4 linked regions of the Homo sapiens genome follow. The protein of the gene in region 4 interacts with the protein of the main gene of each other region in a biochemical or structural test. Each region holds a gene or a part of one and is shown on either strand. Other genes may lie near its edges.

Region 1 (8,779 bases), on a different chromosome or scaffold from region 4:
CCCAAGGTAATTTATAGATTCAATGCCATCCCCATTAAGCTACCAATGACTTTCTTCACAGAATTGAAAAAAACTACTTTAAAGTTCATATGGAACCAAAAAAGAGGCCACATTGCCAAGTAAATCCTAAGCCAAAAGAACAAAGCTGGAGGCATCATGCTACCTGACTTCAAACTATACTACAAGGCTACAGTAACCAAAACAGCATGGTACTTGGTACCAAAACTGATACCAAGACCAATGGAACAGGAAAGAGCCCTCAGAAATAATGCCGCATGTCTACAACTATCTGATCTTTGACAAAGCTGACAAAAACAAGCAATGGGGAAAGGATTCCCTATTTAATAAATGGTGCTGGGAAAACTGGCTAGCCATATGTAGAAAGCTGAAACCGGGTCCCTTCCTTACACCTTATACAAAAATTAATTCAAGGTGGATTAAAGACTTACATGTCAGACCTAAAACCATAAAAACCCTAGAAGAAAACCTAGGCAATACCATTCAGGACATAGGCATGGGCAAGGACTTCATGTGTAAAAGACCAAAAGCAATGGCAACAAAAGCCAAAATTGACAAATGGGATCTAATTAAACTAAAGAACTTCTGCACAGCAAAAGAAACTACCATCAGAGTGAACAGGCAACCTGCAGAATGAGAGAAAATTTTTGCAATCTACTCATCTGACAAAGGGCTAATATCCAGAATCTACAATGAACTCCAACAAATTTACAAGAAAAAAACAAACAACCCCATCAAAAAGTGGGCAAAGGATATGAACAAACACTTCTCAAAAGAAGACATTTATACAGCCAAAAATCACATGAAAAAATGCTCATCATCACTGGCCATCAGAGAAATGCAAATCAAAACCACAATGAGATACCATCTCACACCAGTTAGAATGGCGATCATTAAAAAGTCAGGAAACAACAGGTGCTGGAGAGGATGTGGAGAAATAGGAACACTTTTACACTGTTGGTGGGACTGTAAACTAGTTCAACCATTGTGGAAGTCAGTGTGGCGATTCCTCAGGGATCTAGAGCTAGGAATACCATTTGACCTAGCCATCCCATTACTGGGTATATACCCAAAGGATTATAAATCATGCTGCTATAAAGACACATACACATGTATGTTTATTGCGGCACTATTCACAATAGCAAAGACTTGGAACCAACCCAAATGTCCAACAATGATAGACTGGATTAAGAAAATGTGGCACATATACACCATGGAATACTATGCAGCCATAAAAAATGATGAGTTCATGTCCTTTGTAGGGACATGGATGAAGCTGGAAACCATCATTCTCAGCAAACTATCGCAAGGACAAAAAAACCAAACACCACATGTTCTCACTCATAGGTGGGAATTGAACAATGGGAACACACGGACACAGGAAGGGGAACATCACACACCGGGGCTGTTGTGGGGTGGGGGGAGTGGGGAGGGATAGCATTAGGAGATATACCTAATGTTAAATGACGTGTTAATGGGTGCAGCACACCAACATGGCACATGTATACATATGTAACAAACCTGCACTTTGTGCACATGTACCCTAAAACTTAAAGTATAATAATAATAATTTCAAAAGACAAATAAAATTTAAAAAAAGATTTATTCATTAACTTAAAAATATTTCTTTAGAATCTGTTCTTGCCAGACACTGTCTAGGGACCAGGACCGCAGCAATGAACAAAATATTACAGTCCTGATATTACTCCCTCATGGAGCCTCAGTTCTACTGGAAGAGACTGATCAAGAAAATGTGTACAAAAAAGTCACATTTTATTTTTACCTTTTTTCTTTTCACTAAACGGTTACCATGACTATTTTAGTTTATTTCTCCTCATTTCCAATAAGACTGAGGTTTTCATTTTAACACTTTCCTTATTTGTGTCACTATCCAGAGACTTTATTGGACTATTGAGTTTGTTTCTTCTCCGTTTATATTCATCTTCCCCACATAGCTAATAATGTCTGTTCTCCTTTATGCCACATGACTTTAGATATTGTACACTAGGCTTCTTCTCTTCTCTTTATTGAAATGTACACACGATTCTCTTGATGATCCGCCAAGGGGTCAGAGCCTCTTGCCCACTGCTAAGCTTGGGACTACCTCTTCTTGTGAAATATATGTTAATATTTTTGACCAAAATATACTAAATCATCTCCTTGTTATGTGTTCTTACATTTTTTTGTAATTTATTTCAAAATAATGTTTGTGCCACAATATTACTCACCACTCAAATCTTCATTCTCAGATATTGAAACTCAATTTTTGAACTAAATTTTTGAACTAAAATACTTCATCAAAAAAGTCTTTAATTTATTTGAGAGATGTTCTTTTCAATATTTGAAGGTTGAACATAATTCTATTACAGAAAACAAATATTTTTTCTAGATTTTTTATGAATGTTAATTAAGTTTTTATTAATTTTACTTTGCCTAAGACCACTATAAGTTCCCAAATTTTTATGTCAGGGTTCAGAAACAGAATATAACACTCTATTATATATAATTACACATAGGGAAGATCCCACAGCATTTTCTATATTTTATAAGTAATATAAACTTTACTAGTTTTATTACTAATCTACTAATATATATAATAATTTTATATACGAATGTATAATTACAATGCTAATTTATATACTAATATACTAATATATACTAATACTAATTATACTAGTTTTTATACTCATTTCTATACTATAAATATACTACATACTGGTATACTTTTATATACTAATTTTTAAGCCAGAGCTTCATTATCAACTGGTACACTCTAAGCTACTTTTTCTTTTATATCATCTATTATCTTTGTTTATGGTTTCCAAGTCTTTTCTACCCCATTAAGAATTTTCTTACAAAGTAAACCACATTGTTTCTTTTTTACTTAATTCTGTATTTCTGTCTCATTTTAATATTGTTTTGAAATATTACAAACTAGATAATAAACTGGGAAGTTTGAGGCTCTAGACAAGTTTGATGAGTAAACTCTTCTAAAAACATTGTTTATAAACATTTAAAGTAGTAAATGCCCCCATACCATTCCCTCCATTTCTCAACTCAGTATGCTACTGCTGTAAACTACCTGCTGGACAAAGCTTTTCCAGTAATTATTTATCTACCCATACTATAATTGAAGTATAATTCTTTTTATAACTGTGATATGCTAAATCAAATTGGAAGATTAATTAAAAAAATGAATCTCCTTTTAATATTAACTATGAACTAGCCTCATACTATATATATATATATATATATATATATATATATATATGCATAAAATTAGCTATTATATTTTCTTAAACTCATGAAGGCTATATGTCATTACCAAATTCTTCTGGGCACTTCTATCTTTTTTAGCCTAAGTGTTAAAAATAATCTCAGTACTACCTTAAATACTTTTATTTCAAACACTATATTTTAAGTAACTACGTTCCTTCTATAGCTCAAGCTACTTTGAAATACATGGTTAGGAGAAGATACAACAAATTTGTATCTAAAATTCTTACCGTTTTTCCAAGATTGAAGAGAAGTGAAGGTAGTGCTGGATGGATGATGGTCCATCAGCTTCTGTGACTGTTTATATACTATATTTAATGACACACTAATTTTGTGATTTGAAATAAGATCAATAGCGAGCTTTAATTCCAAGAAGTCCACATGATTAGAAAATGATTTCTGCCTATTACATATCCCCAGAAATTCTGGGCATCATTATAACAAGGGAACAATTCACAAGTTGATAAAAGAAACCTGTCCAGGAAATGCAATTATTCAATAACAAAAGACAATGACTGGAGGACAGTGATACTCTGGCCCTGTCCCCAAGTTATTATGGACATAATTAGGTCTCTTTAGGGCCTAGTGGGGCCTTGAGATTTCAGTTGTGGGAAAATTGTATGTGAACGCTAGATATACACAGGGCTTCACAAAGGCCACAGTTTCATGTGAACCTAAGCAGTTGTTAGTGCTTTATGCTGAAATGAAGAAACTGACAAGATAACAAGTCCATGATGGTAGCTTAGTTATGTGAGGCAAACTGTTTCTCCCAGGGCCACTTGATTTGGAAAAAAAAATAATTTAGTTAAAACAAATATTTTGTACACAAGATAAATAAACTTTCCTCTGTAATGGAATAACTTGAAGAGGGAATCTGGGTGGCTGGTATAGGCAAAATCTTCAGTAAATCTGTAATAAAAATTTTGCAAAGTATCACGGAGTTTTATTTACCTTTTAATATTGATTATCTCTTTTCAGGTCAAGCATAATTATGATAATATTAATGATGGGTTTTTTTGCTTAGTTCTAACCCTTTGCCAAGCACTAAGCAAAGATATTATCTTGTATAATCTGCACAAGAACATCATGAGGTAGCTCTCCTCTTCATATTTAGGTTGAGAAAACAGAGATGCCAAAAGGTTAAGTAACTTGCTCAAAACCATATTGTTAATGGCAAAGATACCAGTTGGACTCAGATCTGTCTGACTACATGTGATTCTGTTTGATCACATGTGAGTCTCAGAGCCCATGTTTTAACCTTCTGATAATTTTTTATAAAATTTATCTATCAATGTAGCATTTGGTTGAAATATGTACAATTTAATTATGCCTGAATTGGAAAAGTAGGGCCTCTGTGCTGTGTGTGGCAGGGGAGCTTGCCATTAAGGAACTGCTCTTTTAGTTGAGCCTTAGAGAATGAGTAGAATTTTGCGAGATGATTAAATGGGGATAGATATTTTGGCTGAAGAAAACACAGGAACTGAAAGAGCAACATACCAGTTTGAGGATATTCAGAGGGCATACATTGCAAGTTACAATTGCAGAGGTTTGATAGAATCAGATCATGGATGACTGTGAATGTCAGGCATGCACTGTGACATAATTCAGTGGAAGCAAATATATTAGAGATTTGAAAGAAAAATGGATTGTAAAATTTCTTGGATTTCATGACTTTATGACAACAAATCAGGTAACCTAGTAAAGGAAGTTGTTATGTTATGTTATTGCAGTAGCCTAAGACAGACATTATGATGATCTCAAGTAGGGAAATGGTCCTGGGCATCTTAGGCAATAAAAAGACAAACTTCTCATTAAAATACGAGAAATGTGAAAAATTGGGGAAATGAATTAATATATTATGCCTGAGTGACTGAAAAGTTAGCCATGTTATAAATCAAAATATGAAACCAGGCTGAAATTAGAAATGAAACACTGAGTAAAACCTTGTACGTGGTAAATTTGAAGGTGTCCAGAAGATGTTTTAAATTAAATGTGATACTCAAGAAATAATCATGAGTATAATTTTTAAAGGTAATTTCTCCCTTCAAAGGAGTAAGTGAAGGTCTCTAGGGAAAGAGTATCAAGTGAGAAAAGAAATTGTACAAAACAAAATTCAAGTATCCTTTCTTTTACAGGGGCTGGTATAGCAAAAGGAAATAGGAAAAAAAAAAACCTGCGATATCAAGAATAAGAGAGTACAGAATCCACTTCCTCTCCTTGATATCCTGCATTGCTAGAGGAAGCAAGTGAGGTCAACAGTGAAATGCTACACAGCTGATTGAGATACACTCCAAATGGTTAAGAAGTAAGTAATTTGTGAGGAATTAAAAGTAACATATGTGTACTGCCCTTCTGAGAAACTTAGAAGAGGAGATAAGGAGAACTGTAAGATTGTGACTAGGTGTACAGGGATAATCAGAACCACGGGAAGGTATTTTTAGGGTAAGGAAGACTTGTAGCTTACAAGAAAGAGGCCAATAAGGAAAGAGTTGAAACATACCAAAGAAGTGGGAGTAAATTAATGGAACAAGTTCCTGTACAGTCATGGAGAAAAGAATAAGACCTATAAAAAATGTACCAGTTTTCCTAAGAAAACAAAAAGGAATAAGAAGATAAGTAGATACAATACATGTTTGAGATAAAAGGTAGAGAAGTTGAAGTTAAATGGTCTTAATGTTCTAGTGAGGTGAAAGGGGGAGTTCTCAACTGAAATTGAAGGACATGGTTATACATAGTTGAATCTTTAAGTCAACTAAGCCAGATACAGAAGGACGAATATTACACAATGTTATTTATATGTGGAATCTTGTTTTAAAAATTGAATATATAGAAACAAAGAGTAGAAGGATGGGTATCAGGGGTTCAGGGTGGAAGATAGATAAGGAGATGTAGGTCAAAGGAAACAAAGCTGCAGTTATGTAGGATGAATAAGTTTAGACATGTAATGTACAGTGTGAGGATGATAATCATTAATATTTTATTGTATAATAAAAATTTGCTGAAAGTAGATTTTAGATGTTCTTACCACAAGATAAAAAGAGTAACCTATGTGAGGTGATGGACATATTAATTTGCTTGACTACAGTAATCATTTCACTATATAAGTATCAAAACATCATGTTGTACATCTTAAATATATGTAATTTTGAAAGAGCAGAAATTTTTGGTTAATGTGAAAATGAAAATGAATAACAAATCCACGAGCAATAATTATGACTTATATGAGATTATATATCAGATTTTTTTATCTAAGTAGTTGTATGGCAAGATGGCGGAGATTTAGTATCAATAGGTTAAGAGAATTGTTAGGATAGGGTTGGGATTATTAGTGTTTGTGTTAAAAATGGCAAACCATCAGGTATTGTTTAAGCTAACATACTAAAAAGAGGGCTTGAATGACTAGAGATGGCAAGAAAGGCAAAGACCTGGCCTAAGAAGATACCAATTTTGAGAAGTACAAAAACAGAGATTTTTTCATTTGGGAATTTCAGCATTAGAAAGAAGAGAATTTCTGTATGATGACTAGATCCAAGGAATAGCCATACATTCAGAATGCTGAAAATAGGTGAACATAAAGTTTGTTAGAGGAAAATGTATTTCATATTAAATATCTATGTTTGCAGGCATTTCCTAAATTATCCAGAATGAAATGAAAAATAAAAGATACATTTGACCTCAAGGAGGTCAAAACCTTCGTGGGAAAACAGACATAAAAATCTACTTGTTACGACATGTAAGGAATATGCTAATAAAGCAGTAAGAAGGTGCAATTGACAGAAGGAGAATACTTAGTTCATTTTAGTTGATTCATGGGAGAGGAAAATAGAATCTCCATGAGGCCATGAGTCCTGAGCAGAATCTTGAAGCCAGATAAAGCAGTTAATCGAGGAGGATAGAGAATTCTAGCTAAAAATAGTTAAAGACTGTAGTCTTGGATATGAGAAACAAGTAACTAGAACTAAATCAAGTAGTGAACCTGGATAATGAAGTTCAAGGAAGAGAGAGGATGAAAATGTGAACACAAAAAGAGAAAGCAATCAGACGACGATGGACAAAGCATGCTTTGCTCCTTAGGAATGTGAATTTTATTCTGCAGATGGAGGGATCTATTGAAGAATTTAAGATGGACAGTAACATTTAGAGAATGGCTATTTTTAGAGAACAAATGATACAGGTACACATTTATTAAAATGAAACTGACCAAGTTTGAGCTCACGTTCTTTGTTTTTGTTTTGGTTTTCCAGTAGGTAAATATTGATTGCTAATGTTTATGAAAGTACAGAAAATTGAGGCAAAAAAGAATACTGAATCCCAGAAAAGAGCAGGGTCTTGGTCAAAGTACGAAAGTAGAGACTGAGGTAGGCTTCAAAATACTTGAGTTGTGCCCATTTACAAAATAAGTCTACAAATTTCCTTGCCTCTTTAGTGATTGCTATTCATAAGTGTTTGGCTGACTGTGTTGGATGTTACTCATTCTTATAATTTTTATTTTTTCTATTTACTGCCTATGACAGATATATTCAGGACTTAAGCACAAATAGATGCCCTTCTAAATTAAATAAGCTGAGTATAGACCTACATAACTATTTTTCTTTATAATATACCTTGCATTAATATCATCCTAGATCTATGAATGAGGGGGACACTCCTGATTGTCACATATATTTCATATTTCTCAGAAAACCCAGGTCAATGTCTACTATACATTTGAATTGTTCAGCTGATATTCATTTTATGTTCATACTGAGCCAGGAGGAAGCCAGGAAAAGAAATGATGAAATTACTCCAGCGTCCTAAGTCCAAATAGGAAAGGCCCTAGCTACCCAATGTGGCTTTGTGGTTTAGCTCTGAGTTGCCAAGGCCACAGGCAACAAAGTTAAGGTTTCTAAGAAAGTAATACAAAAACAAGCATGCCTTGTCCATTCTATATATCATTTGTTTTTTCTTAGAAAAATGCTTTATGCATTGTGCAATAAATATAACATAGCCTTGTAATGCTCATCAATTTTTAGTCACACTAATCAGTATAATTACAGACTTGATTAGCCCAGAAAAGTGGGCAAAACTATGATTAAGGAAAGCACTAGAATAAGAGGCTTGCCTAAGAAAAAATTGAAAAGCCAGAGGTTTAAGATAAAACCAGGTGCTAAGAGCCCAGTAAGCATCAGAACCCAATGACAAATAAGCAAAATGTCATGTGGGGCAACCCAGGCTTTCACAATGAACAATTTAATAATTGTTATTTTCTGCTGGGCGCTGTGGCTCACGCCTGTAATCCCAGCACTTTGGGAGACCGAGGCGGGCGGATCACAAGGTCAGGAGATCGAGACCATCCTGGCTAACACGGTGAAACCCCGTCTCTACTTAAAATACAAAAAATTAGCCGGGTGTGGTGGTGGGCGCCTGTAGTCCCAGCTGCTTGGGAGGCTGAGGCAGGAGAATGGAGTGAACCCTGGAGGCGGAGCTTGCAGTGAGCAGAGATCGC
Region 2 (8,413 bases), on a different chromosome or scaffold from region 4:
GCTACTTGGAAGGCTGAGGCAGGAGAATGGCGTGAACTCGGGAGGCGGAGCTTGCAGTGAGCCGAGATGGTGCCACTGCACTCCAGCCTGGGGGACAGAGCAAGACTCTGTCTAAAAAAAAAAAAAAAAAAAAAAAAAATTAGCTAGGTGTGTTGGCAGGCGCCTAGTAGTCCCAGCTACCTGGGAGGCTGAGGGAGGAGAGTCGCTTGAACCCGGGAGGCAGAGGTTGCAGTGAGCCAAGATCGCGCCACTGCACTCCAGCCTGGGTGACAGAGTGAGACTGTCTCAAAAAAAACAAAAAAATACACAAAAATTAGCCGGGTGACATGCGCCTGTAGTCCCAGCTACTTGGGAGGCTGCGGCAGGAAAATTGTTTGAACCCAAGAGACGGAGGTTACAGTAAGCTGAGATCACGCCACTGCACACTCCAGCCTGGGTGACAGAGACAGACTCTGTCTCAAAAAAGAACAAAAACAAAAAATATGCTCACTGGATTTTCCTTTCTGTCTATGATCTCTCCTCCATTAGACTGGGATCTACCTGGGAAGCTACCTTTTTCCCACAGACCTGTCTCCATAATGCTACTATAGTGTTCTCCACACGTGGATGATGGTAAGGAAAAGGATGGCTGGGGCAAAGAAAGAAGAAACACGAAGGGTCTTTCTTTTGAGTCAGGTAGGAGATACAACTTAGGAAACAGATATGGAAAACAACGGGTGCCGAGGATAAAGGAATAGAAGCCAATCAAGGCGTGACAAAAATGGAAGAAAACTGAATAATGAGAAAGGAATAGATTAAAGTGAGGCTAGGTGAAAGAGCATTGGAGAAGATATAGAGATGACTTGTGGAATAGGAGGTAGAAAAAGTAGCTCTCACCCTGGAAACCTTCTCAGCAGCTCTGATCCTGGAAGCCTTCTCAGCAGGTGGCATCTTGCAATTCAGGAGGCCTAGACAGAAAGTAAACACAAAGGTGGCTGAGTTCCAAGCAGCTGGTTGCCCAGGGGTTGATTATCACGAGGCCTGTGTATCACCTTGGGTTCCCCTCTGCCTTCACTTACCTTTCTGATGCCTCCTGGGGCTCACTGGGGATCCCCTTCCACCTGACTGGCTCCCAGAAGGTACGGGGGCTGAGGTAGGTCCCGGAAGGTCCCCCGCCCCCACCCCAGGCTCTGGTGTTGGGCTGGAGGCCTGCCCTTTCTGGTCCTGGCTCCCTCCCTCTGGCTCCCCTCTCTGTGTATCTCTCTCCAGGATCACTTTGGGCACCTTCTCTTCTAACTCGGCTGGATCGCACTCTCTGTTTGCTACTGGTCTCTCTACTTCTCTCTCAAATGCTTTGCTTGGAAGGGTCTGCTTCTGTACTTGTTTCTCTTGTATTTCCTCAGATGTCTCAATTTCTACCTTCAAACTCTCCCTATCTCTTTCAGGACTTGCACTTTCCCCATTTTTGTCAGATTCTTGTCTCTGGGTGTCTCTAGCTAACAACTGTTTTTGTTCTCTGTCCTGTTTCCCCTTGGTTAATTCTTCCTCTCCTGTCACATCTGTCTGTCTTTCTGGTAGCAGTTTCTCAGTTTCTCTCTCCAATGGCCCTCTCTCAGGGCCCACCCTCTCTGCTGTTTCTTTTGGTATACCCATGACTTTATCCACAGTCTGCCTCCCTCTGCCTTGAATCCCCATTGGCTCTGTGTGAACTGGGCTCTCTGGATGTTGGTCTCCTGGTATTGCCCTAGGTGGAGACAGGCAAGGTCCATAGGCCTCAAGGTGCGTGTCAAAAGGCTGGGTCTCAGAGTCCTCAGACTCTCTCAGACAGAATGGCTGTGTAGCCAGGACCTCCCATGGTTCATCTAGGGTACCTGGAAGGGGAGGAAGGAAGAGAGAGAGAGGGAGAGGGAGAGAAAAGAGGGAGAGGAAGAGGGAAAGGGAAGTACAGGTTGACATAATAAATATGATGAGAAAGGATTTAGATAAACTCATGAATAATAAATCTGAACAGGTTATTAAAGGTAAGCTGGGAATAAGGGTGGTAGTTATAACATTTAACGTTTGTCTCAAAAAGGTCATAGCCTTAGGCGGGCATGGTGGCTCAGACATGTAATCCCAGGACTTTGGGAGGCCAAGACATGAGGATTGCTTGAGGCCAGGAGTTTGAGACTAGCCTGGACAACATGGCAAAACCCCATCTCTACAAAAAATACAAAAAAATTAGGTGTGGGGACGGGGACCTGTAGTCCTGTAGTCTCAGCTACCCGGGAGGCTGAGGTAGGAGAACTACTTGAACCCCAAAGGTCAAGACTGTAGTGAGCTGTGATCATACCACTGCACTTCAGCCTGAGTGACAGAGACTCTGTCTCAAAAAAAAAAAAAAAAAAAAACCCAAGAGAAAAAGAAAAACATCATAGCCTAATATGAGTTCCCTGAATAGTCTCTCATCATACCACTGCATTCCAGCCTGAGTGACAGAGACCCTGTCTCAAAAAAAGAAAGAAAGAAAGAAAGAAAGAAAAACATCATAGCCTAATAAGAGAGTTCCCTGAATAGTCTCTCTCTCTCAAGACAGTTTCACTCTGTCACCCAGGCTGGAGTGCAGTGGCATGATGTTGGCTCACTGCAACTCCCAACTGCTGGGCTCAGGAGATCCTCCCACCTCAGCCTCCCAAGTAGCTGGGACTACGGCATGTGCCAAAGTGCCCGGCTAATTTTTTGTATTTGTTGTAGAGATGGGGTTTGGTCTTGAACTCTTAGACTCAAGTGATCCACCCACATTGGTCTCCCAAAGTGCTGGGATTACAGGTGTGAGCCACCATGCTTGGCTGGAATTTCCTTCTTTTTAAAGGCTGAATAGTATTCCACTGTGTATATATACCACATTTTCTTTTTTCTTCATTGACACATAATAATTGTACATATTTATGGGGTACCTGTGCTATTTTGACTCATGCATACAATGTACAATGATAAAACCAAGATAATTGGGATATCCACTATCTCAAACATTTATCATTTCTTTGTCTTGGAAACATATCAAATCTCTTCTAGCTATTTTGAAATACACAATAAATTATTAACTATAGTAACACTACTGTGGAACTGAACACTAGAACTTATTCATTCAATCTGACTGGATTTTTGTATTCATTAACCAACCTCTTTATGCATTCTGTCCCTCTACCCTTCCTAGCCTTTGGTAACCACCATTCTACTCTCTACTTCCATGAGATCCATGTTTTTAGCTCCCACATGAGTGAGCATACAATATTTGCCTTTCTGTGCTGACTTATTTCACTTAACATAATGTCCTCAGGGTTCATCCATGTTGCTGCAGATGACAGGATTTCATTCTCTTCTGTTGCTGAATACTGTTCCACTGTGTATATATACACATTTTCTTTTTTTTTTAGATTGAGTCTTGCTCTGTCACCCAGTTTGGAGTGCAGTGGCATGACCTCAGCTCACTGCAACCTCTGCGTCTTAGGCAGCAATCCTCCCATCTTAGCCTCCCGAGTAGCTAAGACTACAGGTGCATGCCACCATGCCCAGCTAAATTTTGTATTTTGAGCCACTGCACCCAGCCTATATACACATTTTCTTTTTTTTTATTATTAGAGATGAAGTCTCACTCTGTTGCCCATGTTGGAGTGCAGTGGTGTGACCTTGGCTCACTGCAACCTCTGCCTCCGGGGTTCAAATGAGTCTCCTGCTTCAGTCTCCCGAGTAGCTGGGACTACAGGCACCTGCCACCATGCCCAGCTAATTTTTGTATTTTTAGTAGAGACAGGGTTTCACCATGTTGGCCAGGCTGGTCTCAAACTCCTGACCTCATGTGATCCACCCACTTCGGCTTCCCAAAGTGCTGGGATTACAGGCATGAGGCACTGTGCCCGGCCTACATTTTCTTTTCTTTCGTTTTTTTGAGACAGAGTTTCACTCTTGTTGCCCAGGCCAGAGTGCGATGGCACAATCTCAGCTCACTGCAACCTCTGCCTCCTGGGTTCAAGGGATTCTCCTGACTCAGTCTCCTGAGTAGCTGGGATTACAGGCATGCACCACCACACCCGGCTAATTTTGTATTTTTAGTAGAGACGGGGTTTCTCCATGTTGGTCAGGCTGGTCTCAAGCTCCCGATCTCAGGTGATCTGCCTGCCTTGGCCTCCCAAAGTGTTGGGATTAGAGGTGTGAGCCACTGTGCCCGACCCCGGCCTACATTTTCTTTATCCATTCATCTGTTGATGGACATTTAGTTTGATTTCATATCTGCCTATTGTGAACAGTGCTGCAATAGTGTGTGTGTGTTTTTTTTAAGAGACATTGGGGGTGGGGGTTGAGGGATGGGCTATTGCCCAGACTGGGCTCAACTGATCTTCCCATCCTGGCCTCCCATGTAACTGGGACTACAGGTGCTCACTACTATGCTGGGCTAATTTTTTCATTTTTGTGGAGACCAGGTCTCTCTCTGTTGCCCAGGCCAGTCCCTAAATATTTTCAACCTGCAGCTGGTTGAATTCACGGACGCAAACTCGCATACACAGAGGGCTCACTGTAATCAGAGTATGAAAGAAACATGTAGGAAGGCAAATCAAGAAAGAACGCAGGCCGGGCGCAGTGGCTTACGCCTGCAATTCCAGCATTTTGGGAGGCCGAGGCAGGCGGATCACTTGAGGTCGGGAGTTTGTGACCAGCCTGGCCAACATGGTGAAACCCTGTCTCTACTAAACATACAAAAAATTAGCCAGGCATGGTCATGGACAGCTGTAATCCCAGCTACCTGGGAAGCTGAAGGAAGAGAAACCGCCTGGGAGGCGGAGGTTACAGTGAGCCGAGACTGCACCACTGTAATCCAGCCTGAGTGACAGAGGAAAAAAAAGAGAATGCAGAATTGGGGACACAGAGGAGGGAAGAGTTTCTTATACCTGTTGTCTGGAAGCTGCAATGGGAAGGGCCAAGCTCTTGGGGTGGAGTCAACATGAAGGCCTGGGTAGGTTCATCCTCCATGCTCTGGACTGCTGTACAGGAAAAGATGGCCTAAGTTCATCTCCTCCATACTACTGTAGGGTTCCATTCCTGGTCTCCTACCCTACCCATACTAGCCTTTACCCTTCAAGGACCACCAGTCTAATCTCCCAGCTCCCACTGGTACAGGATTCAAATAACACAGAAGTCCTCACCTTCCAGGCCCTGATTCTCCAGAAAGCACTGGGTAGCTTGTAGGTCCAGATCTTCAGAATCTGGTCGGGGAGGAATATAAGACAGTTTAAAACAAAAATCATACCTGACACTAAACTCCTTAAATAATCTCTACCTTTCTCTCCCCAACCCCAGCTGTTAGAACCCTGGTTGATTTCAGAGGTCTAGGAAGGAAGGCCAGCACTTACCACCATAGTTGTCTTCAGAGTCCTTGGTCCCACCCACATGTTGTTCTCTCTCCCTTCCTGTGGGGACCTGGGCTCCCTCTCTCTGTGGCTGGGTGGATTCCCCTAGAGTGTCTGTGTCCACCACCAGATCTGTGAGGTTCTCTCTTGAGATAGGGAGGTCCTGCTCCACTTGTGCCACAGGTGGCCCACCCTGGGCCCCCACCTCATGAGCTCTCTCCTGCTTAAGAACAGCTGCAGCCCACTCTGCCCCAGCATCCCCTTCTGCTGGAAGCTGGCTCTTTCTTACATCTGCAACTACTGAGGCTGTTAGGGAGGTGCCCTCCTCTGCATCTGTTTCACAGTCCCCATGCAGAGGCCAGGCTTCCTCTAGAGATACCACAAGCAGCTTTGCTGGTCCCCCAACTGCTTTCACATCTGTTTGATTTGTCCCCTCCACAGACACCTGATGCTTCTTTATATGTATAATGGCTGACCCTGGCGGGACTTCCTTCTCCACTTGTGTGTTGATGTCCACTGTGGTGGAGGCTTGGCTTCTCTCCAGGTGGATCCCAGGTGAGCTCTTATCTGCTTCCACACTGTCATCACTGTCCCCAAAAGGAGGTTGGTCCTTTTCTGAATGTGCTCTAACAAGGGCTCTAATCTTTGTGTGATCCTTGAGGACAGCTTCTCTATTTTCCACTGGGAGCTCTTCCTCCTCCACGTCTGTGTCACTGTCTCTCTCAGTGGTGGTTTGGCTTCGCTGCAGAAGGACCACACGTTGGGGCATGTCCTCTTCTGCATCTCTGTTCCATATAGCAGGCTGGCTCTCTTTCAGATGTGCCAAAGTCAGCGCTGCTGAGACTTCTTCCTCGTCATCTGTATCGCTGTTGATAACCATGGAAGCTTGGCTTTTCTCCAGAGGGACAGCCTGTGGGGCCTTGCCTTCTTCCACATCTGTATCACTACCAGCCTGGCTCTCCTGCAGATGGGCCAGGCCTGGTGCTCCAGGACCCCTTGTACCTACTCCATGGAAGATCTTCCTCTTCTTCATAGGAATGACAACTGGGGTTGCTGGGATCCTCTCTTCTTCCGCATCAGTGTCGCTGTCGATGAAGCCAAAAGGCTGAGCCCTTTCCAAATGGACCTCAGCTGGCCTTCCAGGAGGCCTGCTGTCATCATCCACATCTGTGTCACTGTCCTCTCCAGGAGGTTGGCTCCTCTCCAGAATCACCCCAGCTGGAACCACCCCATTCCCTGCACCCCTCTTGACTTTTGTATCATTGTCCCTCTCCTTCACTAAAGGCTGATCCTTTTCAAGCTGGATTTCAGTTACAACTTCAGCTTCAGACTGCTTTGCCTCTACAGTGGCACCTCTTCTGGCAGCTGAGGAGGCCTCCTCTGTGGCTGGTTGCTGACCTTCTTCCACATCTGTGTCACTGTTCAAATTGAAGGCAAAAGGCGGCCCAAGGCCGCCCAGGACCGGGGAATGCCCCTCTTCATCACTGTGAAGGGAAGAAAAGAGAGTCTATAGAATTTATTTCCCTGGAAGGGATACCCCAACTCAACTGTGAGCTCCTTGAGGGGAGACACAAGGTAGCATATTTCTTCTTCTGTTTCCAATTTGTTTTCCACTTGGCACATCAGATGTGCTCCATAAAAATTCAGCTGAGTGAATGAATATGTATGGTTCCCCAGCCCCAACTCTCATGATAATCATCTCTTTTAGAGATTGATCCTCCAGCCCCTGGTTCTTCCTCATTTTGAAGACTCAGGTGTCTGACTCTTTGGCACTCACCTCTCTGGAACTATCACAGAGGAAGATGTGGTCCTTGATTTTTTTACCATACGCCTTTCAGAAAGAAAATCTGTCAAGAACAGAAAGGAATGAGTTGACAATTGTACACTCATTATTCCTGTCTCCTCATTCTCCCTGCCAATATACAAACTTACCTACTTCCTCCTCCGAGTCCTCAGCCAACAGAAGCCTCTGGGGTTGAGTTTCTCCCTGTACTCTGGGTGTCTCTTCTACTGTCAGAGGGCCCCGGGAGACAAAGGGCAGAGAGACATCCAGGCGATGGTACTGGCAGAGCAAGTCAGCAAAGAGAATCAATTCCTGGTCCCTCAGACGGTGACTCACCCCAGGGCTCAAAACCTTAGGAGGTCTCAGGATTTGAGTACCATTAAGGCTCCCACAGTCTCGGAGGATAGGTGCCTTGTCCCAGGCTAAGATTTCAATCTCTGCATGTTGTTTGGAGATAGATGGAAAGGGCAGGGCCACAGAGCAGTCAGGCATTCGGCCTACCACATTCTTCCCGAGGTGTAGTGGGAAATCTAAGAATTAGAGAGGTAGATAAGCTCCAAGATCAGAGTCCTGGCCTGTCATTAGGAAAAAGTGCCTATTAGGTACTCTACTACTCACTCAAGGCCTCCATATGCATTAGAAAAATAAAAGGCCCTAGGACATCTAGGCACTGAAAGAGTATATGCGATACCCCATCCATCCACAATGGATGTTTTTTTACTGTTATAAAATACACATAACACAAAATGTATCACCTTAATAATTTTAAGTGTATAGTTCAGTGGCATTAAGTGCATTCACACTGTTGTGCAATCATCACTACCATCCATCTCCAGAGCACACAATTGGATTTTATTTGATTTTTTTTTTTTTTTTGAGACAGGGTCTCATTCTGTCACCCAGGCTAGAATGCAGTGTCATGATCATAGATCAGTGCAATCTTGAACTCTTGGGTTCAAGTGATCATCTGGCTCAGCCTCCCAAGTAGGTGGGACTGCAGATGTGAAATGAACCACCACACCTGGCTAATTTTTAAATTTTTCGTAGAGACAGGGTTTTGCTATGCTACCCAGGCTGGTCTCTAACTCCTAGTCTCAAGTGATCCTTCTGCCTTGGCCTCTCAAAGCACGGGAATTACAGGTGTGAGTCACTGCACCCAGCTTCATTTCAATCTCTTAATTTTCTTTTATCAAAGTAAAATCACTTCCAGTGAGTCCAGGGTAGTAGTCTGCAACTATCAACTCAATCGGCCCCATCTCTTCCATTC
Region 3 (7,210 bases), on a different chromosome or scaffold from region 4:
AAAACCTTCTTGGTCATTTTCTAGCATCTTCCTTCTTCTTAGAGGCCTGTTGGGGTTTAATTAACCCCATCAATTTTGAGTTTTCCTAAAACTTCTCATTGGAAGGAGGGCCTGCAACCTGTATTTGGGAATACCCTGTATTACAGGCTTAAAAAGGACAGTCCTCCACATCTTCATCCTAGTCCTTATCCCCAGGCTACAGATGGATGAGACGCCGGAGGCCTAGGCTACACATTTTTCCAGTAACCAATCCCTGCCTGCCATGGTAAGGGGTGGGACAAGCGGCTCCACTTCTGAACCCCTCTCAATCTGTAAGATCAAGGTAATTATAAGGTACCTGCCTGAACTACCTCCTGACTGCTTCAAGGATCAAACTAGGTAATAGTTTAGAAAAACTTAAAATAATAGAAAGAAATCTTCACTCTAACCAAAATAAGAACTAGACCATTTGAAAATGATTTATGGGCCAGGTGAGGTGACTCATGCCTGTAATCCCAGCACTTTGGGATGCCAAAGCAGGAGGACTGCTTGAGGTCAGGAGTTCGAGACCAGCCTGGACAATACGGTGGGACTCCCATGTCTAATTTAAAAGAAAAAAAAAAAAGAAGAAAAAGAGTTTTTACCCCAATGAGAGGAAAAAAACATTTTTGCAAACTTGTGATTTCTAGAGGGCCCAGGACCTCCATTTTCAAGCATCAAGAGACCCTCCAGACAGCAGGACTTTGGTAATTATTCTATCTTATAATGTTTCAGACTTGGAGACCCTTTTAAACAAGGTGGTTGGTGATTTATCCTGCTCCGTCATTAGTGGCTTGGCCTGCTCTGCAATTACAGGCAGTGATTAGAATCTTATATTACACCACAGGTCCCCCTTCAAACTAAACATCAAAATTAATCAACTAAACGAGTGCTGACCTCATATAAGGTCTGCCTGGGGCCCCCTCATCGAGGGGGTTCCAGTTGGGCGAAGCCAGTCCGGAATCCCAGAGAGCCTGGCCCGGCCTGCCTGGAGATCTTGGCGGGTCTCCCTGGAAGCTCTCATACCATCTGGTGCCTCCCCCCACCTCTTGCTGCTGGGGACCCTTTAATCCCCTCAGCCAACCCCCCACGAACTAAATGAAGGCCCGAGGCCCTTTCCAGTGAGGCCAAGAAACGTTCGTCTTTTCCACCTGTTTCTGAACATCAGAGGCCTGTCTTGGAGGAACTACATTTAGGGCCTAACCCCAATCCCTCACTTTGTAATAAGCCCGCTTGGGCCTCAAGCCTGTCTCCTCCATACACTGTGCATGCAAACTGTGCTCCTCAAATACTTAAGGACTCTGCAGGAAAGGCCCTAGGAAATTATCTTGGGGGTTCCCTTGTTTTCTTCCCCGTCCCCCGTAAAAAAGTAGCCCAGAGAAGCCTTGAGTTGCCTAAGGTCACACAGCAAGTTGGCGAGCAGGAAGAAGTAGGTTCCCGGAGACCCTTTCAACCCGACACTTTGCCTACCCGCCTAGCGGCTAGGGCTAAACCCCCGAGGCATCAGGCTCCAGACCCGGCCCGAGGGTGACTCTGCAAGTGTCTGCGCCCGGCCGTTGCAGGCCGGCCGGCGGGACCCGGGGCCAGGGCGCGCGGGGGGAGGGGCGCAGGCCGCTCCTGCAGGCGCGGGAAAGCAGCGCACCCCGACCGCATGCACCGCCACGCGGGTGCACCCGGCCCCACTTCCTGCCAGAGGGGGCACCCAAGCCCGCCTTGGGGCAGGAAACCTGGCGCGCGCGGGCGCGGGGGAGAGGAAGAAAGCCCCCTCCCTCCGTCCCCTCCCCGCAAAATAAAGCCCCAGAAGAAAATAAAATAGAAACGGGGAGTCAAAGGGACTAGTTCCAACAGAGCCCAGCAAAGCAGCGAAACCAGTTTGTGGGGGCGGAGGGCAGGCCCGGCCCCTGGGGCTGAAGAGGCGCGGGCCAGGCCAGAGGTGGGGTCGGGGTGAAGCCCCAAACCCAGGCCCGCGCTCCGGCCTCATCTGCGGAGGGGGCGCGAGAGAAAGGCCGAGAGGGCGTAGGGCCGAATTTGGGGGTTCCTCCCCATCTCCCTCACTTCCAGAACTTCCCTGAGCTGCGGGGGGCGCCCGACCCCCCACTCTCCTGCCGCGCCGCAGCCCGTGTCTCTCCCCGCCCCTCACCCGGGCCCGGGCTCGGGCTCGGGCTCCGGCTCCAGCGGGAGCGGCCGCCGCGCGAGGTGCGCCGGGCTCCTCCGGGCTCCGCCGGGTGCACAACTCGCGCTCGCCGCAGCTGCGCGCCCCCTCCCCCACCGCGCGCCTTTCCCGGGTCCCCGCCCCCCGCAGGGCGCCCGCGGCGCGGGGGAAGGGGTGCGGGCGTCCTCCCCGCGCCGCCGGGCCCCGCCGCCCGCCCCCGCGCCGCGCGGCCCTCCCCCGCCGCCGGCTCGCGCCGCCCCGGCCTGGGAATAAAGCCGGCGGCGCGCGCTGCAGCCCCGGGCGGCTCGCAGGAGGGGCGACGTGCGGGCGGGGGCGCGGGCGCCCCCCTCCGCCGCCGCCGCCGCGGGCCCCGGGGACGACTCACCGCGAGCTCGGCCGCCGGCCTGCGGTGCGCGCTCCGGGTTGCCGGGAGCGGCGGTGCTGGGCGCTGAGGACCGGCCTGGCTCCGCCGCGGCCGCCGCTGGTAGCAAATGCGGATCTGAAACCGGGAGAGAGCAGAGGCGCTCAGAGACCGCCGCCGCCGCGTGCTCGCCGCCCAGGCCCCCGCGGGGTATTTATGTGTCACAGCCAGGCGGGGGGACAAAAATATTCCCCCTCCCCCGAAGGATGGCGAGGGGCAGGAAGCTGGGCACGGCCCGTGCGCGGCCTCAATAAATAAATAATTTAATTAAATTATAGATATAAAAAAAAGAAGCCACCGGAGCGGCCGCGAACTCACGCCTTCTTGGAGCCGCGCCAGCGCCAGAAATAGCCCCGGCTCGGAGTCCCAATTAGAGGAGCGCAGCACCGGCTCAGGGGAGCTTAAAAAGAGCGACCCAGGGGCAGGGGGGACGGGCCCGCCCGCGCCAGCCGTGTCACTCAGGGGGCGGGGCCATGCAAATGAGCCCGGGGATTTAAAAGGGCGGCCGCCCGCCAGCCGCCGCCGCCGCTGCCGCGCGGGTGGGTGCTGACGGCAGGGAGGGGCGTGTGGGAGGCCTGGGCTGCGAACTCGAGTCGACCGCCCACTCCTCGCAGTCCCGGACGGAGGAGGTGTGGGAAGGCACGCGCAGAGGAGTCACGAAGGAGCTTCTGGCGGGGGGTGGTGACGGGTGGCGGTATCCTTCCTCCCTGGTACAGGGGTCCCAGGGAGAGTCACCTCTAGGGGCTTCCAGGGCGTGTGGGCCCGGCCCCCCCCCCAGGGCGTGTGGGGGTGGACGGGGGTCCACGCGGGCCCAGGGGGTGAAGAGAAACGCGCTCGTTAGAGAATTCCGCGGCCTACACGCCGCCCCCTAACTAAAATAGAGAGATGGTAGATTTCCCCTGGGCGGACAGGTGTCAGCATGTGCCTTTCAGTGTCAACCCGCGTGTGGCTGATTGGTGAGATACAAGTCTTGTGAAATTCAAACGTGAAACTTGTGAAATCCAAAGTGTTTTATTAATGGCCACCAGCGAGCCATGATCAAGGTGGAGCCTTCCAGCGAAACCAACGATTGGCTCGTTGGCAGGTACACCCAAGGGAGGCTTCATACCTTGAGGTGACTTAGATGGTGTTCTGGAGATACGCAGGCCCACTTGGGGACCTGGGCCCTTCCGTTGGGACTGTAAATAAAAATAAAAGGTGGGCCAGAGGTCGCCTGGAAGCGCTTTGAGGGCAGGGGCCGAGCACGCAGGCCATCTCCGCCACGCCTGGCCCGCCCGGCGCCCGGCTTAACAAAGACTTGTTGCACCGAGCGAGAAGGAAGCCAAAGGGGAAGATGGCGGGGAGGGCGGTGGGGGAGGAAAGGGCGCAGGCGGAGCGGCGCGCCCTGCAGGCCGGCCCGGGGCCTTCTCGGGCGCACCTCCCGCGCCCGGTCCCCGAGGCGGCCTTCCACACCTCCTGTGATGCAGGGAATTGAAATGCGCTCCAGTGACACACGGCTGTGACTCATGTTTTTCTCTGCTCCCCTTCTTCCTCCCCGGTCAGCCGAGGCCCTGGCCCAGCCCCCTCCTCAGGGGGCGAGCCGGCGGTGGAGGGGACGCAGGAAAGCCCTGGGCCCGGCGCGGAGGCGGGGTGGGGAGCGGCGGGCTGGGCCTTGCAGTTGCAGGAATGTGGCAGGAATGTTTCCGGTGGGGGTGGGGAGCGGGCGGGGGGTGGGCCCAGCCCCCACCCGTGCGGCGGGAAGCGCTCGGGGCCCGGGCAGCACGTGCTTGACCGGGTGGGGGCGGGGGCGCCTGGGCGGGAAGGCGCCAGGGGCCGGGAGCGCGGGTTCAAAGGGGAGGGCGCGGGCCTGGGGCCGGCTCGGCCTAGGGGTGGGCCCGGAGGCCGCCCTCTGCGCGCCGGCTCCCCGCCCCACGTCCAGGTGAAACGCAGTTCCTGAGAAGTCCCGGGGCCGCCCTTGGAGGGGAAAGGAAGTCACCAAAGGGCGGCCCGAGGGGAGGGGAGCAGAGGGCGGCGGGGCCCGCGAAGAAGGCTGGGGGAGGGGCGGCCTGCCCCTTTGTCTGGTGGGTGGGGGTGGGGCGGGTGGATCGCGCCGCTCCCTCCATCTTTGTGCCCTGGGCCCGGAGCGCGCGCTTAGTAGGCCGTGAGTGGTGGTGGCTGGAGGGCGTTCGGTTTCGAGCGCGGGAACCTCTGCGGCGTGGCATGGAGGCGCGATTCCTCAGCCTCCAGCACCCCGTCCCAGGTCACAGGCTCCCCGCCAGCACCTTGGGACCCAGGTCTGGGCTCGGGCTGCCCCCCAGAGCCGCGCGCCCCTCCACTTCGCGCTCTCCAAGGCCGCGGAGGCTGCTAGGCCCGGGCACCGGGCTGGCGGCCTGGCGGCTGGGGAGGTGCGGAGAGGGTCCTGTCCGCCCTCTCTCTCGGGTACATCTCTCCCCGTCCGTGTGGGACGTGTGGCCGCCCCTGAGACGGGGAGGGGAGAGGGACTTCCGCCTCGAGTGGGCTGTGGAAAACTTGGCCAACTTTTTGGCCCACTTGTAGCAAGCCGACTCGATCTTATTTTTCCTACTCTTATTTTCCTCTCGGCCTGATTTCCTCAGCGACTTGTTTTTTACCTTGTATTGTGTGTATTTTTGTCAGCCACCTCAAACCCTTTCTGGAAGGAGGCAGGTATAAATAAATTCGTAGGCAAATAAATATAGTAGCTTGTTCCTCTCCAGGATTACCCACACCCTTGAAATCCAAATAACTCTCTACTCACTGACCCCCACCTCCACGCTTTCTGGATTGTCAATGCCCTGAATTCACTGTCTTTCCTTTCTTTCCCCTTTAAATAAGTATTAAGCAGAAGAGCGAGTGGTAGAGATAAAAAGATGGGTAGGATCTAGTCCTTGTCCCAGCGAATTTCACGTCTAGGGAAATCAGAATCAGGCCTGCACTAGAGAAAACTGAATAGCAGTACAGGAGATGCCATGTTAGAAAACATTTCATTCAGTAGTTATTGAGAACCTACTCTGTAGCAGGAACTGGGCCAAATTCTTGGGGTACAATTAATGAACAAAGTCCCCTGCACTCTTGAAACTTGGACCAAGGGGTCAGGCGCTTACAGACTTAGGAGGAAATACAGGAGGAGAGGATGGGAGCCCAGGGTGGTCAGGGAAGTCCTGGAGGAGACGGGCTTGAGCAGGCCTTCGTGAGACTTGGATAGGTGGGTGGCTGAGGAGTTGGGGACAGGGCAAGCAGGAAGAGGGAGCTATTCCAGGCCAAGGACATGGTCAAGGCCCGGGGGGTTGAGTTGGTCGATACCAGAACCCGTCTTCCCCACAGGAAGCATTTTCTGTTATTGGAGTCAGTCTATACAGTTTGCTCAAGGACGACCCAGTGAGCTTCAGTGAACCCAATGGGAATGTCCAGGGAATGGGGAGTTTGAGTCAACTTTATATTTTGGGACGCTGACTCTTAAGCTCATTTTCTAGATGAGTAGGTGAAAAAACTAATGTGGATGGTTCCATTTAGTTCTATTAAGTATTCAGCTTGATGCATTTTCACAAAGTGAACACCTTTGTGTCACCAGCATGCAGACCAAGAAATACAACATCTCCAGTACCCCTGTGTAACCACCATCTCAACTTAAGCAGCGCTTCGTTTCACCTGTTCGTGCACACGTAGGGATATGGAGTCTTACATTATGTATTCTCCTGGGTTAGTTTCCTTTGCTTACCCTTATGTCTGTGAGGTTCATCCATGCTATTGTGTGTGGCTGCAGAATGTTCATTCTCAGGGCTGCTTAGTGATGTGATATGAATGTACCACAATTTTATATCCATTCTGTTGAAGGACATTTGGATAGTTTCTGGCGGGGGGCTATTATGAATAGTGCTGCCATGAATGTTCTAGAATATAGGTGAGTAGATGTGCAAATTTCTGTTGCGTACGTGCCTAGGAGAGGAATTATTGGATCACAGGATGTGTATGCTCAGCTTCAGCAGACGAGCAGGGCACTTCAGAGTGAAAGCGGCACTATTAATACTTATGGCCAGACAACAGGCATAAACCTGACCTGGCCCCTATCAACCAGGACTGACCCAGGCCGGTAGGAGGTGGGGCTACCCTGGTACACAATGTTTGACCACTCTCCTCAAGAGTCACCCAGCTACTAGTGCATCTGGTCATCTGGCAGGATCAGGCTTCCAGGCTCTGCTGACCACAAGTTCTGCTGCCAGCAAGGCTGGCAGGCCTAGAAGGGGAGGAGGGCCTCTGCTGCTTCCAACTTTCGAGGGAAAAACTCTCAAGTGAAAAGGAGGGCCCAGGAATCAGGGCCCTCTCCGCCTTCCTACTGTGAGCTAATGACCCACCTTGCATGGCCCCAAGATGCCATGGACTTGTCAGCTTACTTCTTCAGGGCTAAATCCCCAAGGAAGCCCAGCTCCTCTCCAACCCCTGAAGAAATCTAAGGAGAGAGTGGAGTTGATAAGCATATACTGAATGCACATGTTCTCTCAGATCCTCCACATCCCTACTGGTGAGTGATACTGTTGCCCCATTTCACAGGTATTAAAACCAGGTCTTGGCCGGGTGTGGTGGCTCAAGCCTGTAATCCCAGCACTTTGGGAGACTGAGGTGGG
Region 4 (7,206 bases):
GGGGAGGAATAACAGTGGCCATTATTAGAAAGGTTTGCTGTTCACACAATTTATCAAATTCTGCCCTCCAGAGGAGGTACTGACTGGCCTTTAAAGTTGTTTTAGCTAGCACTGACCAGTCCCATGGGGTGATATGGAAGTTGTCTGCTATGGTTTCAATTATTCCTTTTGTAAATGGGCTAGTGGCTCCGTTTAATGCTTTTTCTTACCACTTTATAAGCGTCAAAAGAAGTTGTCTGCTATGGCTTCAATTATTCCTTTCATAAATGGGCTAGCAGCTCCATTTTCTTTAACGTTTTTTTCTTATCTCTTTATAAGCGTCAAAAGAAATGGGTTCATATACCTGATCGCCTTGTCGATCTTGCATTACTGGGCAGGCTAAGAGCTCCCCTTCTGATGCCGCTTGGCTAAGACAGGGTCCCAAAGCTGTAGTGTATCCCTTGTCTTTTTCCAATTTATTGGAGGAGGGGGCTCAGGCAAAACCTCTGTTTCCTCTTTGTTATTTTTGCCTGTTAATGGCTGGGCTGAGGGAGAAGGAGGAGACGGTAGGGTAGGTGACGGTTCCATCTCCCTTACTTTTTTAGGCTTTTCTGTGTAGAGTGGGACCAAAGCAGTCCTAACTAAAGCCCATAACGTTAAAGATGTTACTGAGACCCATTGCCCTTGCTCATGATGTTAAAATTTCTTCCCAGAGCTCTACGTCTAGTGTACCTTCTTCCGAGAGCCATGGGTTATGGGAAACAACAGTTTGCATTAGGTCCCATAATTGAGCCTGTCTGAGGCTCTGCTAACTTTCAGCATTTGTTTTACTACTTTTATATACTGTTGCTGTTGAGCTGACAACTGTTGTCCCATGATGACAACTGTCATCCCATGATGATCGTCCCTAGCTTGAGCAATTCCTTTGAACTTGGAAATGCTGAACAGGCACCAATGACTTACTGACTGCGCAGTCTCTTCACCTTCATTTTCGAGGGTTCCGTCGTGATCTGTTGCAGCATTCCTCACACAGGGAATCACCTGCCGAGTCTGTCCCACAGACTTTGGCCGAGTGACAGATGAAAGGAGTACTCAGACACAGATATTCAGTGAGAGAGCAGGCTAGGGGACTGCCAGCACTAGGGGCCGAAGAGAGTTAGCAGTCCCCTTAAGCTGGTGGCCCTCACATTTATTTAGCACAAATTTAATGACAAAGGCTTGGAGCAAACACAATTTGTGGGCAATAAACATTGTCAACATCCCAAGTAGACAGCAGTCCTGTGTGTGAATGATCAAAGGTTGGTTTCTGGACACAGGAATAAACAAATTTATCTAGGTAAGTTCCTATACAACTCCCCTGTTATCTGCCCTTTGCTCTCAGGCTTCAGATAAGAATTTGGCTGCCTTCAGCCATAATTTCTTTCTGAAGCTTTTGCAAAACCTCTCGGCCTTCCAAGAAGGTTTGTGTCTTTCCTATAATTTCTCCCACCACCCTGACCAATCTCCTACAAAGGCTGAAGCAGGAGGATTGCTTGAGCCCAGGAGTTTGAGGCTGCAGTGAGCTGCGATCACACCACTGCACTTCAGCCTGGGCAACAGAGCAAGACCTTGTCTCTAAAAAGTAAATAAAAAAAAGAGTTGGGCTAGGTTTGAGGTTTATTGTTGCTATGGTTACCCCCAATGCAGCAGCTTCCAGTTCCTCCAATGACACCTTGGACTGAGGGTGCAGGCTGGCCTGCCAGAGGGATTTTCTCCTTCCATGTGTGCTCCCTGCTCAGCTTTAGGTCCTCCCTTTGTGACCCTCAGAAAGGGTCTTCTTCCCATACTCTTGTCTCTCTCCTGTAACATTTTTACTTCTAACTCAAGGCTTGTCAGCTTACCATTGGCAGGTGGGGGAGGAGGGAATTCTCTGTTCTGATCAAGTCTCAGTCTCTGTCAGGCCCTTTGTGTCTCTGATTTTGGGGTTATGTCCTCCTTAGTGCTCCTGTTCCTCCCCCAGTTCTGGGCCCAGTGTGTATTCCTGCCCCTGCCCAGGGAAAGTTTTGTTTTGTTCCTGTTTCATTCCCCCAGATGCAAGGGAGCTTCATCCAAGGGGGTGACAGGATTTGGTGTCCTTCCCTCCACAGACTAAGGCTTTTGTCCGGTAGGGGATACAGGGAAGGGTCTGGGTGGAGCACTGTGATCCTTTCACAGTAGCTGCCATTGTCTTCTTCCAGATCTTGAGACATTTTATTAAAACTTTCTCCAATCTTCTGTGTGCTCCCAGTGGGGTTCATGGTGAAAAACGCTGAAAAGGGTAAAGACTACTGCAGTCTCCATGACCCAGTCCCTCACCAGTGTCCACTTGTGTTTACCAGGTAACCAGTGCCCATGTCATCTCTTCCATTTTGTGCCTGTCTCTCCTTAGATTTGAAGCCAGTTGATTGTCTTCTGATCTCAGCTCTCCAGAAGACCTTTTCCAGAAGACCTCTCCCTGTGTATCCACTTCTAAACCAGTCACAACTGCCCGAGTCTCACAGCAGCATGGTGGATATCCCGCTGTCCCTCAAACTGGGGCTCTGTCAACAAAGAGGAAGGGAGGAATGACTCCCTTGGGAGGAGACAACAACATTGCAAGTGATCTAGTCTTTGAAAGGCTTTTAAGCAAGGGACTGAGATAAAATTTATTTATTATTTTTAAGAGAGAGGTTCTCACTCTGTCAGCCAGGTCTCACTGAGAGCAATGTGATCATAGCTCACTGCAGCCTCCAACTCCTGGGCTCAACGTATCCTCCCACCCAGCCTCCCCAGTAGCTAGCACTATAGTCACACACCACCACACTAGTTAATGTTTTCATTTTTTGTAGAACAGAGGACTCGCTGTGTTACCCAGGCCTCAAGTGATCATCGGGCCTTGGCCTCCCAAAATGCTGGGGTTATAGATATGAGTCACTGTGCCTGGACTAGAATATTTATTTTTGAAAGATCTTTGGTTGCAGGTGTCAGATGAATCAGGAATTGAGACGAGATGGGAAGGCATCAAGACCAGTTATCTGCTATGATACTCCAAGCAAGAGAGGATGGTGGCTGGGATGAGGAATTTGGCAACGGGAATGGGAGGAAGTGGATGCATTCAAGATAAATATCCATTTATTAAAAGTAGTTGCTTTTTCACCAGAGTAATACATAAATATAGTTTTAAAAGTAAATACTGCTACTATCTTAACAATAATTTAAAAAATCTCAAAATAACATGCAACTGTTTGATTTTTCAGTTTTAGGCATTAGTTCCCCTTATAAATGATGAGAGTTTAGAGCTTAGACCGCTTGTCCTGTTACCAACACCACCACACATGCCAGCATTTCCCATCACTCCTCTTTCCATTGTCATCATACTGTAATCCTGGTTAGACCAGTATTCAGTGTTTCCATTATGACTACGTAAATTCTAATCACAGCTGAACCAGCAGTATGATATTTAGTTTTCCCTCCTTTCATAACTTTTCCCATTCCTGCTGAGTTAATACTTTTTTGGCTTGTCTTACTCTGCTCAGTTTTCATTTTGTAAACTTTTAAACATTTGAACTCTAGCAAATATACTGAGAAGTGCCCCAAACGTAAATGGAGAGTTTAACAAATAATTATAGAGCAAATACAACATTTAGGTACCACCCCAATAAACACAACACCGAGGACCCCCAGAAGCACCCTGTGTATAGTGGAATGTTGTGTTGTTTCTGGCCATGGAGTCTCAAAGACTGATTCTCAATTTTTGTTGCTTGAAAACAAGTAAACAAGTATTCTCAGCCGGGCACGGTGGCTCACGCCTATAATCTCAGCACTTTTGGAGGCCGAGGCAGGCAGATTACTTGATGTCAGGAGTTCCAGACCAGCCTGGCCAACATGGTGAAACCCTGTTGTTTTGTAAAAATACAAAAACTATCTGGGTGTGGTGGCATGTGCCTATAATCCCAACTACTTGGGAGGCTGAGGCAGGAGAATCGCTTGAACCTGGGAGGTGGAGGTTGCAGTGGGCTGAGATCATGCCACCGCACTCCAGCCTGGGTGACAGAGTTAAGACTCTGACTCAAAAAAAAAAAAAAAAAGTTGGTGTAATCCTTTCCACACACACATATATATATACATAGATGTTATATGTGGTTGCCTTCTGTTCCTACTGATATATATGAATAGTATGGCTGATTGCATTATTGGTTTGTTTCTTCATTCCCCTGTAATAAGACTAAACATACACACCCTTTGCCATATAACCTCATAAAGTTTTCCCAACACAGGCTCTATGCTTCCCTACTGCACTGATGTTGGGCTTGGCTATGTGATTTGCTTTCGCCAATGGGATGATGGTGCTTGTGACACAGCAGAGGCTTGAAATGTGCTTGTGTGATTCCATTTGGTCTCTTCTAAGTTTCTGTGATTCATGAGAAGAGCACGCCCTGAGTAGCTGCTGCAACTTCTGCCACATTGGGCAAACCTGAATCCAATTCACATGGAGGTGTCCAGCCCAGCCGACCCACAACCTGAAAAACAGCTGCTTGGGCTGAACTTGATCTAGATCAGCTGAACTACATACAGTTGCCTTAGAAATTTGTGAGACTAAGACTAGACAGAGAACAAAAGCAAAAGAAAGAAAAAATTTGTCTGCAATGACTGGCTAGGAACCTGGACAGATTCCTGGCAACATAGCTGTGCAAAAGCAGCCCCACAAGCAAAATTGAGCCAGGAGACAGGGTTCTGATCCCAGGCATGGGCCTTGGCAGCTGAAACTTGTTAGGCTGGGCCTCTCCCTCGCCAGTTCAGGCAGCCCCTCCTCTGAGGCCTCATGGACCATTCTCTCTTCTCCAAGACTTCAAGATTCCTTCCTAGTGAGTTTTTCTTTTTTACTTTTAGATGGAGTCTGGCTCTGTCACCCAGGCTGGAGTACACTGACGTGATCTCAGCTCACTGTAACCGCCACCTCCCAGGCTCAAGCAATTCTCCTGCCTCAGCCTCCCAAGTAGCTGGGACTGCAGGCACACGTCACCAAGCCCAGCTAATTTTTGTATTTTTTAGTAGAAACAGGGTGTCACCATGTTGTTCAGTCTGGTTTCAAACTCCTGACCTCAGGTGATCCACTCGCCTTGGTCTCCCAAAGTGTTGGATTACAGGCGTGAGCCACCATGCCCGGCACCTAGTGAGTTTTTCTGTTACTTTTTTTTTTGGAGGCGGGGTCTCCCTATGTTGCACAGGCTGGAGTGCAGTGGTGAAATCATGGCTCACTGCAGCCTCAACCTCCTGGGCTCAATTGATTCCTCCATCTCAGCCTCCCAAGTAGCTGGGACTACAGGCATGCACCACCATGCCCAGCTAATCTGTGTATTTTTTGTAGAGAGGGTTTCATCATGTTTCCCAGACCGGCCTTGAATTCCTGAGCTCAAGTGAGTCGCCCGCCTCCACCTCTCAAAGTGCTGAGATTACAGGTGTGAGCCACTGCACCCAGCCTGTTAAATCTTTTTTTCAATTAATAACAACTTCTTTTACAGACAGGGTCTCACTCTGTTGCTCAGTCTGGGGTGCAGTGGCACTATCATAGCTCACTGCAGCCTTGAACCCCTGGGCTCAAGTGATCCTCCTGCCTCAGCCTCCAGAGTAGCTAGCACTACAGGCATGTGCCACCACATCCAGCTAATTTTTAATTTTGGTAGAGACAGGGTCTCCCTATGTTGCCCAGGCTGGTCTCCAACTCGTGGCCTCAAGCAATCCTCCTGCCTCAGCCTCCCAAAGAGCTGAGATTACAGGCATGAGCCACCACGCCCAGCTTCTGTGACTTTAAAAAAATCTTTTTAGACAGGGTCTTGCTCTGTCACTTGGGCTTGAGTACTGTGGCACAATCACACCTCACTGCAGCCTTGACTTCTTGGGCTCAGGCAATTAATTCTCGTCCTTTGGCCTCCCCAGTAGCTAGGACACAGGCGCACACCACCACACTCAGCTAATCTATTTTTTGTAGAGGTGGGTTTTCGCCATGTTGTCCAGGCTGGTCTGGGACTCCCGGCTCCCAAAGTGTTCCAACCACAGGTGTGTGGGCCTTCCGTGGTATCTTAACCTCATCACCCAGAGGCAACAACAGCTAGTATTCTTCTAGTTTTTACCACCCCCACCACCTCAATCCTGCCCCTGTAGCCTTTCCAAGTGCCACAGCATTGTTTCAGTTTCTATCTTAGAAAGCCCGGGAGTCTGTGTCCTATCTCCCTGGGGGCATTCAAACCCTAGTCCATAGCCTGAGGCCCACCTATACCCAGACCCAGTGTCTTGGAAGCACTGACTTTAATACCCACTTAGGCTGGGCGCAGTGGCTCACGCCTGTAATCCCACCACTTTGGGAGGCTTGGGCGGGCGGATCACCTGAGGTCGGGAGTTCGAGACCAGCCTGACCAACATGGAGAAACCCCGTCTCTACTAAAAATACAAAATTAGCTGGGCGTGGTGGTGCATGTAATCCCATGCCTGTCTCAAAAACAAAACAAACAAACAAAACAAAACAAAACAAAAAAACCCCAGTTACATTCAGGATGAATTCTGCCTTCCTTTTTGCCACCTTGGGATTTCCATTTCTTTCTCTGAAATAGGCATTTGCATTTTTCCTAGGATTTTTTTTTTAAAACAGTTGGAATTATCCCATATACACAATTTTTTCACTTTTCTAATTAACATACATTTCCCCATGGGCTTGTGTCTCACCTCTCAATCCCCAGTGTATAGCAAAGACCAGGCTCAGGGGCACTTACAAATGTTTGTTGAAACCAAAGACATCCTATATTACAGAAATGAACTTTGGAAAGACCAGTCAGCGTGGGTGGGTGAGGAATGCCAGAGACGGGAGAACAAAATGAGGTATACCGTCAGGTTTGAAGGGTTGAGGGTTATGGAGGGTTCTTCATAGGAAGTTCACCATGGAGTTCTTGGAACTGTTCAACACACAGAAGCAAGGTCCTCTCCTTCTAGGTATGGCTAGAAATGTTTATCAATAGCTGAGACTCTGATTCCCAGGGTGGGATCAGGAAGCCAGCCCCAGCTGCTGCAGCATTTTTTTCCCTTTTTCTCATTACAGGAGCCAAGAAAACTGTCAAAGCAGATGATGCAAGAGTGAAGCTGACTCAGAAATACTCAATCCCCCCAGGAACTTCTCTAAGAAATGGACTGACCATCCTGTAAGCTTCCATCTGGAGGTACCTGGGGAAGGGCTTCTCA

Evidence for each region.
Region 1: of the proteins of CSNK2A1 (region 4) and CSN2, one has a biochemical effect on the other in vitro, tested with the Homo sapiens proteins (2 studies listed by BioGRID).
Region 2: of the proteins of CSNK2A1 (region 4) and MDC1, one has a biochemical effect on the other in vitro, tested with the Homo sapiens proteins (2 studies listed by BioGRID and IntAct).
Region 3: of the proteins of CSNK2A1 (region 4) and HMGA1, one has a biochemical effect on the other in vitro, tested with the Homo sapiens proteins (2 studies listed by BioGRID and IntAct).

What each region holds. Positions count from the first base shown.
Region 1 is NC_000004.12:69,962,157-69,970,935, forward strand, and holds the start of CSN2 (beta-casein isoform 1 precursor), read right to left. Parts: upstream 3,573-8,779; 5' UTR 3,525-3,572; intron 1-3,524. UniProt on the Homo sapiens protein: Important role in determination of the surface properties of the casein micelles.
Region 2 is NC_000006.12:30,706,508-30,714,920, forward strand, and holds part of MDC1 (mediator of DNA damage checkpoint protein 1), read right to left. Parts: intron 7,677-8,413; coding exon 7,296-7,676; intron 7,211-7,295; coding exon 7,141-7,210; intron 6,848-7,140; coding exon 5,367-6,847; intron 5,220-5,366; coding exon 5,160-5,219; intron 4,998-5,159; coding exon 4,905-4,997; intron 1,851-4,904; coding exon 1,059-1,850; intron 948-1,058; coding exon 877-947; intron 1-876. UniProt on the Homo sapiens protein: Histone reader protein required for checkpoint-mediated cell cycle arrest in response to DNA damage within both the S phase and G2/M phases of the cell cycle.
Region 3 is NC_000006.12:34,232,663-34,239,872, reverse strand, and holds the start of HMGA1 (high mobility group protein HMG-I/HMG-Y), read right to left. Parts: upstream 3,001-7,210; 5' UTR 2,992-3,000; coding exon of another isoform or gene 2,910-2,991; exon of another isoform or gene 2,670-2,909; coding exon of another isoform or gene 2,556-2,669; intron 2,459-2,555; coding exon of another isoform or gene 1,493-2,458; intron 1,083-1,492; exon of another isoform or gene 916-1,082; intron 1-915. Other genes in the region: translation initiation factor IF-2-like, read right to left, coding at 1,493-2,458, 2,556-2,669, 2,910-2,991, 3,143-3,298, 3,617-3,627. UniProt on the Homo sapiens protein: HMG-I/Y bind preferentially to the minor groove of A+T rich regions in double-stranded DNA. It is suggested that these proteins could function in nucleosome phasing and in the 3'-end processing of mRNA transcripts.
Region 4 is NC_000020.11:471,414-478,619, forward strand, and holds the end of CSNK2A1 (casein kinase II subunit alpha), read right to left. Parts: 3' UTR 1,085-7,206; downstream 1-1,084. UniProt on the Homo sapiens protein: Catalytic subunit of a constitutively active serine/threonine-protein kinase complex that phosphorylates a large number of substrates containing acidic residues C-terminal to the phosphorylated serine or threonine.